2 separate regions of the Homo sapiens genome follow, and region 2 is reported to be linked to region 1. The links are microRNA targets in miRTarBase. Many come from high-throughput screens and were not tested one by one. Region 1 holds a microRNA gene; the other region holds the end of a gene's coding sequence.

What was found. Region 1 holds the annotated microRNA hsa-miR-302d-5p (ACUUUAACAUGGAGGCACUUGC, at 1,496-1,517, shown strand). A microRNA usually pairs through its seed, bases 2 to 8, with sites in the 3' UTR of a target mRNA and lowers its output. Matches are read on the target gene's strand: a 7mer-m8 pairs with bases 2 to 8, a 7mer-A1 pairs with bases 2 to 7 and ends in A, and an 8mer does both.
Region 2: the mRNA of MB21D2 is a reported target of hsa-miR-302d-5p. Seed matches in the 3' UTR shown: 7mer-A1 at 3,276-3,282 and 7mer-m8 at 3,046-3,052.

What each region holds. Positions count from the first base shown.
Region 1 is chr4:112,645,562-112,649,561 of GRCh38, reverse strand. MIR302D (microRNA 302d) reads left to right here and starts at 1,491; the gene lies at 1,491-1,558. It overlaps LARP7 (La ribonucleoprotein 7, transcriptional regulator), which reads right to left. Exons shown (of 13, transcript NM_016648.4): 3 at 3,111-3,211; 4 at 2,891-2,974; 5 at 2,607-2,771; 6 at 2,435-2,528; 7 at 2,013-2,363; 8 at 1,728-1,872; 9 at 1-27. MIR302CHG (miR-302/367 cluster host gene) reads left to right here. Exons shown (of 3, transcript NR_146092.1): 2 at 963-1,049; 3 at 2,594-2,842. MIR367 (microRNA 367) reads left to right here and starts at 1,621; the gene lies at 1,621-1,688. It also overlaps MIR302A, MIR302C and MIR302B. RefSeq lists an enhancer at 1-691.
Region 2 is chr3:192,794,374-192,798,910 of GRCh38, forward strand. MB21D2 (Mab-21 domain containing 2) reads right to left here. Exons shown (of 2, transcript NM_178496.4): 2 at 2,442-4,537. The coding sequence ends at 4,013. Among named protein-coding and RNA genes, the nearest start is that of FGF12, 69 kb to the left of the region's middle.

The DNA.
Region 1 (4,000 bases):
TCTTTTTTCAAATCCATCCATTCGCTCCTACAAGGAAAGAAATGGTGATAACAGATGACTAAATATAAAAAGTAAATAGGGAAATATCTAAATATATACATTCACAATGACTTGGAGCAACTCCTCCACCAACTTTCCTGTTTCTTTAAACACATATTCAAAATATTTCCTAGGTTCTAAAGACATTTAGCAAAATAAGCTAAGGGAGTTCCTCTTCCCCCAATATTCAGATTAAATGTTTTAAGATTGCCAATTAAATTTTTGAGTGTCTGAAGTATTTTAATTTATAAAAGTAAAATTTTAGCATTAATTCCTTAACTAGTAACATTTACTAAATCAGTCATCTCTGTGGGAAAAGGGCGAGATTAAAGATTTGTTAAACTGCTTCCAATTTGAGAGATAACATTCCTTAGTATTTACTTGAATCAAAAAGAATTTCTAAGTAGAACAAAACACCCCGTGGAAGCAATCTATTTATTTACATACATTTAACATGTAGATGCTTCTTCAAACAGAGTTCCTCCAGATAGAAACACAATGCCTTTCTCGGCTCAGTGGGAGCACTCATTGTTACCCTAATCTATGCCATCAAACAAGCAGATAGGAGATTTTCTTTTTCTTTTTCTTTTTTTTTTTTAAGAGGAAGATATCTTGTGGTAATGGTTTTAGCTGTTAACATTGACATCTGTATACTTCAAAAAAAAAAAAAAGGATCCAGACCCACCCAGGATCATACATTCCCTGAGAGCTGATACATTAAAATAACAAAAGGCCCTTGTAATGATTCTCTGAGATAAAAAGGCAAAAGGAATTCAAGAGTTAAGAATAGTATAAATAGAAGTGGCTGAAGTCCCTGCCTTTTACCCTTCTGGAGGAGAACACGAATCTTTGGGAACTAGTTCAGGAAGGTAAAAAAATTTTTTTCTTCTAAAGTTATGCCATTTTGTTTTCTTTCTCCTCAGCTCTAAATACTCTGAAGTCCAAAGAAGTTGTATGTTGGGTGGGCTCCCTTCAACTTTAACATGGAAGTGCTTTCTGTGACTTTAAAAGTAAGTGCTTCCATGTTTTAGTAGGAGTGAATCCAATTTACTTCTCCAAAATAGAACACGCTAACCTCATTTGAAGGGATCCCCTTTGCTTTAACATGGGGGTACCTGCTGTGTGAAACAAAAGTAAGTGCTTCCATGTTTCAGTGGAGGTGTCTCCAAGCCAGCACACCTTTTGTTACAAAATTTTTTTGTTATTGTGTTTTAAGGTTACTAAGCTTGTTACAGGTTAAAGGATTCTAACTTTTTCCAAGACTGGGCTCCCCACCACTTAAACGTGGATGTACTTGCTTTGAAACTAAAGAAGTAAGTGCTTCCATGTTTTGGTGATGGTAAGTCTTCCTTTTACATTTTTATTATTTTTTTAGAAAATAACTTTATTGTATTGACCGCAGCTCATATATTTAAGCTTTATTTTGTATTTTTACATCTGTTAAGGGGCCCCCTCTACTTTAACATGGAGGCACTTGCTGTGACATGACAAAAATAAGTGCTTCCATGTTTGAGTGTGGTGGTTCCTACCTAATCAGCAATTGCGTTAACGCCCACACTGTGTGCAGTTCTTGGCTACAGGCCATTACTGTTGCTAATATGCAACTCTGTTGAATATAAATTGGAATTGCACTTTAGCAATGGTGATGGATTGTTAAGCCAATGACAGAATTTAAACCACAGACTTACTTTGATAGCACTCTTAATGGTATAACTTCTTCTCCCATTTTATGTCTCTCTTTATGTTTTTTCTTATGTTTCCTTTTTGTTTTCAAGAGAGAGCTATCTTTTAGATCTCCAGTATCCTTTTCCTCTTCAGTAGAGATTTCTATATCTTGAAATAAATAAAAAAGCTCTCCGTTAAGACATGGGGCTGTGAAATGGGTGAAACAGAAGCCAATTAAAACCTAATTAATTAAAAACTAATTAATTAAAATTAATTAGTTTTATCTAATTAAAACCTTGTAGTTTTACCTCTATTTTCCTTGGAAGCTTCTGATGCTTCCTTAATGATGTCTTTCTGAATAATTTTCTTTACTTTTGATCGGGGAGCTAGGGATTCTGCATCTTCAGAGCTGCTTCTCTTCCTCTTCCCTGTTCTGACTTCAGGTAAGCTAGATGCTTCAACTCTGTCCCGTTTTTTCTTTTTCTTTGAGCACTGCTTTTGGGGTTCAGTGGACTCAATGTCAGAGCCCTCAGATGTGGGTCTGGATCTTTTCATTTTACTGATGCTGGTGTTGCTTGTGTCCATGTTTTCTTCTTTGGCTTGGATATTGTCTTCCTTTTTCATTCGGCCTTTCTTCTTCTTTTTCTTTTTCTTCTCTTCTGTAAAAGTGCCATCATTATTAGTTCATCTTACTTCAACTACACCTATTTAAATATTGAAAAATACTCACCCACAACTCTTAAGGCTGGAATGGGCTTATTTTTCACTGTTTTAGGAAATATGCCAGGTTTTCTTGGTGCTTCTTCTGGTGGGTTGTTAAGAAACTGAAATGATTGCAAAAGTTACTATTTTAATACTTGTTTTCTTTTCTTTCTTTTTTTTTTTTTAGGATCTGGACTTACCTCAATTGCTTTTGCTGCTTGTTCTTTTGTTTCAAATTCCACAAACGCAAATCCCTTTGGATCTCCAGTAGACTTATAATGTGGTATACTTATATAAACAACATTGCCACATTTCCCAAATACTCTTTCAATCCAGCTGTGATTAACATTTTTGGGAAGTAACTCCTATTATAAATTAAAAGCAATATTAGAGTTTTTCACAATCAGAATGTCAATAAATTTTTAACTTAATTATATTGTTTCTGTGCCAGTTTCTGACTGGGGACCCGGGTTCTTAAGCTTACCACATACACTGTGCGTTCATCCTCATCCTTTGGTCTTTCCCCCAGAGGTTTTTTCCTCCGGATTCTGGTGCCTTCCAAATCAAGCTTTAAAATAGTATATTACATTAATAAAACTAATATTATTTATAATTGTAAGCTATAATCATATAATAATCATTACGTTAACATTCTTTATAATTATAAACTATAAATATAAACAGTAGTTATTCTTGATTCTTACCTCTACAACAGCTGAACTTCTCAATGCTCTGGCAATTAACTTCCCATCAGTAGTCAATTTTTTCATTTTGTTAAAAGACACAAGTAGTGATATATCAACATCTAAAGAAAATGAAAAAGTTAATATGTTAGTGTATCAGCAGGATTAATTCAATTTGGTACAATTTAACCTGCCCCTCAGGCCCTCAGGCTCGGTGGCTCATGCCTGTAATCCTAGTACTTTGGGAGGCCAAGGCGGGTGGATGGGGGAGTTCAAGACCAGCCTGGCCAACATAGTGAAACCCCATCTCTACTAAAAATACAAAGAATTAGCTGGGTGTAGTGGTGCACGCCTGTAATCCCAGCTACTCGAGAGTGAGGTAGGAGAATCGCTTGAACCCAGGAGGCAGAGGTTGCAGTGAGCTGAGATCACTCCAGCCTGGGAGAAAGAGACTCAAACAAAACAAACAAAAAAAAACTGTATGAGGGTCTAAATGGCATTGCATATTTGGCGACCTAAAATGACACATTTTAGTGTATGTAACTGCAGATTAAGATTTGAACACAAATTATTAGCAATACCCAGACATTCAAAGAGGACATCTGGATCCCATCCTATTAGAAACAAGCACAAGGTTGGCTATTTGAAATTTAGCAACTGGGGATGGTGGCTCAATGCTTCTTATCTCAGCAATTCAGGGGTGAAGGTAAATCTCTTGAGCTCAGGAGCTCAAGACCAGCCTGGGCAACATGGTGGGACCCCATATCTCTTAAAAATGCCAGAAAAAAAAGCCGGCCTGGTGATGCTTGCCTGTGTTCTCAGCTACTGGGGAGGCTGATGGAGGATCGCTTGGGTGGGGCTGAGGGGGTGGAGGTGGGGGCAGAAGTTGGAGTGAGCAGACATGGAGCCAG
Region 2 (4,537 bases), not on the chromosome of region 1:
AGAAGTCTTTCCCAGATTCCTACCTGAAACAGTCATACCAACAGCCCCTTCAGTGACTCAGAGAAAGGTTCTGGAGAGAGCTTACCGGGATGGAACTTGAGGCACCTTCTCTAAAGACCACTGCTGAGCTTTGAAGCCACAGGAAGCCCCCAGACCCTGGGAGACCAACACCGCTGCTCAACACGCCTCCTGTTCCTTCCCAGCATTACCAGCAAAGGCTGAACTCCAACTCAGAAAATTCCTCTTGGTGAGGCAGTGATCTGATTCCAAACCACCAACGATTAGTTATGACCAGGGGGCTTAATTCTCCAAGGAAGTGCATTATAAAAGTCACCCCAAAGAAACCTCCAGTTGGTGATATAAAAATATGTGTGTGTGCTCACACTCATGTATGTGCGTGTGCCTGTGGTACACAAGTGACTAGGAGCTCCTAACGTCCTTTCCACTTTTCCCACCTCTCCACCCAGAAGTAAGATTAGCTACATATGCCTGCCTCTCATTTTCTCTGAAATAATTCTGTATAGTACTTTCAGAAATATTTTTTAAATGTCTGGTCCTGGCTCCACCCACTTCTAAACCAACCTTTACTGGCATCTTTGGATCTTCCATTTCAGAAGAGAAAGCCAGGGGACAGAGAATAACCTACTCTCAAAATAGGTGAAACCAGCCTCATTAGAGAACTGAAGGCCCGTTGAGTAATAGCTTGTAAATACCCCCCGATCAAAAAGTCAGCCATGAATAATGTTAAAATTATGACTCCAGCCTTAAGGCATTGTATTCTGTGCTTGAAACAGAAGTGATTTTAACCGATCTTCTGAACTTCAGGAGGACAGACTGGTTAGTAACTCAATGATTTGCTTAAATTTCAGATAAGAAAAGGTATTGGACTACATCCCATTTCTAGCCCTCTCAGCATCTGAGCCAAAAGTCCGAGGTTATAGTACCAATAGGAAATTCCAGGAATTTTTTAAAGGATTTTAAAATTACTAGAGCCCAGAGGCCTCTGGACCTTTTTCGAGACGTTTAACCAAGAATTTGTAGAGTGATCTTCACTAGGACTAGAAGTGGCAAAAACAAAACAAAACAAAAAACAAAACAAAAACAGGGCCAAGAGGATCTTTGAAACTAGTTTCTTTTTATGCCTGTAATGGAGTTTTGTCTGAAAACATGGCACGTAAAATATTGCAAATATTGCTAAGTGTATTTGAGACACTAGTTCAGAGAATAGTTATGGTCGTTTATAGCTTAAAGAAACAGCTGTTGTAATATGCTTGCTACTTTGATGGTTTACAACTATTTTAATCTACAAAGTGTAATGTAATGGTCAAAGTATCATACATTTTTAACAGGCTTTAGTAGAAGCATAATTATTATAGAGGCTATTTTTTTTGAATCAAATCAGATAGCATAAACCAGCTCTTAGATAAAATACACGGTAACCCTGATATCTGTCCCGAGAAAGAAAAGAGGCACACAACAACGGCAATAGTTTAAATATACTGAAGTAGTTTGGTATACCAGTTTAAATATTTTGATGAGCCAAATTCAAACTGGCTAAAATAACCCAAGTGTTGACTCATTTAACTAGAAAGTCTAGTGGAGATCTCAGATGTGGCGGGTGTGGTAGGTCATGTTTTAATTCCCAGCTCCCATAACGCCATCCAACGTCAGCTTCATCCTAAAGCTAGCTCTAGTCAAGATTGCGTGATACAAGATCAGAAAACCAAACGCCACATGTTCTCACTCTTAAGTGGGAGTTGAACAATGAGAACACACGGACACAGGGAGGGGAGCATCACGCATCGGGGCCTGTCGGGGGGTAGGGGGCTGGGGGAGGGATAGCATTAGTGACGGGTTGATGAGTGCAGCACATCACCCAGGGCACGTATATACCTATGTAACAAAACTGCACGTTCTGCACATGTAACCCAGAACTTAAAGTGTATTAAAAATAAATACACAAATAAATAAAGATCGTGTGATAGTTGTCAGTAGCAAAAGAATCCAAATGCTTTCTCCTCCATATCCAGGGAGAGTGTATGTTTCTGTCCCAGCATTCCAGTTTGGAACGCTGAGCGTGTCCCTGACTGGAGCGGCTTACATTCTGTGTCGCTTGTTAATGTTGTGGCCAGGGAGATGGTTTGTGCAGATCAGCTTTTCCAATTATGACGCGTTTTCAGCACTAGGGATGAAATCATTTCCTGAGAAGGACAAGGATGATGTGGCGGATAGACATTAGTAGTAAAACTGGGGAAAGAGGAAGACTGAATGTTGGTTGTTCACTATATGGACAACTGGTCCGAAAGACACTAGCAAGCCCATGGCTGTATTTATTGAAAATTGCTGTTAGTATAATACTAATAAGAAAATATACTAATATATAAATATACTAATATAATACTAATAAGAAAATAATTCCCAGATTACAAACAACAACAAAATTTCAAGGCCAGTATGTTTCTTTTTTTATTATTTTTGTGTTTGACTTAGATGGTTGAAATGTTTTCATTTTTCATTTATAAGCATTACATTAATTTCCATGCAAAAACCCAAGATCGCATATGTCTGATTTCAATTGGCCAAAATCCAACCCTTGAGTTTGGACATTCAAGACCAAAATGAACACGTTACTTGCCCTTTCTATGAGTAGACATCATGGGTGTCCTTTGAAAGATCAGCAGGCCTCCTGACCTCTTAAACACCAGCTTGCCATGAGTCCACACCAAAACAGGGAGCCAATACCTTCCAGCACCTAATCAGGCAAGTAACTTCACTCATGAAGACAGGACACCTCTATACCAAGGCTGCCACCCACAGATATTTCCTGGGTGCTGCTCTATAGCAATACCTGCTTTTGAACAGACGTGGTATCTTCTATTTGGGGATTATAAGTTCTTCCTGCCAGTTTTTCTCAAAACTCTCAGGAAGAGTAGAGATTTTACAAAAAAGCTTACCTCTATGACCCCAAAAGAAATAAATACAAAGACACCTACTTCATCAAGTGTATATTTTCCCCAGCTTTAGATGGGGTCAACATGTATAAAGCTTTAACAACTTCTCTCAGTAAGACAGGAACCAGGAATATCAAAGAGGGCAAAGCAGGACCCCACAACTGAAGGAGAACTAAGCAAATGCAAAGAATCATTTCACTGATAGAAATGGGCAAAATGAAAAAATGATAGAATTTCGAGAGTGGTTGTTAATTTATATTGAAACACACTTTGCAATTCTGACAATGGCAAAGATTAGTGCAAATAATAATTATAATGGTATGTTCTTTAATAGGATTTAAATAAGGCTTCAAATAATTACATATGCTAAAATTAACATTTGGAAACCTTAATTCTGCTTGGAAAACTGTCAAAGACACCCTTCAAACCACCCAGTGTTCTCTGATTTGAGGACAATTACATTCAATGAAGTTGCTCCAAAACACAATTTGTAGTATTATCACTTTCAAAGTTTACATTGTTTGGTGGAAAAGGGGGGAAACTACTCTGGTCACTGGCCAAAATAAATAAATCCAGCTAACATGCCAAGTAGTTCCCAGGTTCATATGATTCTCAAATATCAGTAGTGGTGAAAGCTCATAAGAAAAAAGACAAAAACAAAATAATAAAAATAATAGGATAGAATCGTTAAGCATCAGAAAGAGATTTGTTTCCCCATACCCATGAACAAATTTGCACCAAGTATGAAACAGAAAAAAGCAAGAGGATTCATGGGCATTTTCATCTATGGCTTAAGATCTCCTTAAAAAGAAAAAAAACTCCAACAAACTAAAGAGCATGACAATAACTACAAAAAGTAAACAACGAAATCAGAGGCAGAATATGAAATAGTAATATACTGTTTCAGAGCCTGCACCATCCTGCAGAACCAGGAAACTTAAAATTTGTTCTTAACAAATCCAATCTAGGCTGGATATGTAAAAAACAGAAAGATAGCATCACAAACCACACGACACATTATCAGAGTTTAAGAATCAGGAAAAAAAAAAGTCAGCTAACACTCAGAAAAATTTGTCATCAATTCTGAAATGGGGCCTTGTGACATCGTCAGGATTGATAAAGACAGAGATTGACTTTCCCGGGTTCTCAGTCACTAGCTGCTGCAGTTTTTTTGCCAAACGGTCATCAGGCTGGTTGGGGTCCCCTCCGTCAGACTGTGGAGAGGGGATGCTGGTGGTGCTACCTCGCCTCTGGAGCTCCAGTGTCAGCCGGTTGGCTGCCTTGACATGCTCAATGGCGGTGCGCAAGTGCTCTGCCGGGTCTGAGCGCACAGAGGACAGCTTCCGGGCGTGAAGCATGACTGTCTCCTCAGACAGATGTTCCAGCATGTTGCACTGAGGGATGAAATAATTGGGGCACATCTTGTTGACCAGACAGTGTTGCAGGTCATCGATGAGGCCCAGCAAAAAGTGGGCTGCATAGTCTTCTTGAGCCAAGTAGTTGGCAGGAAGTCTGTCGCAGGCCCAGAGCATCATGCTCCGCAGGTGATAGGGGCTAATAGCCTTGGGCCGGGACAGCAGTTTAAT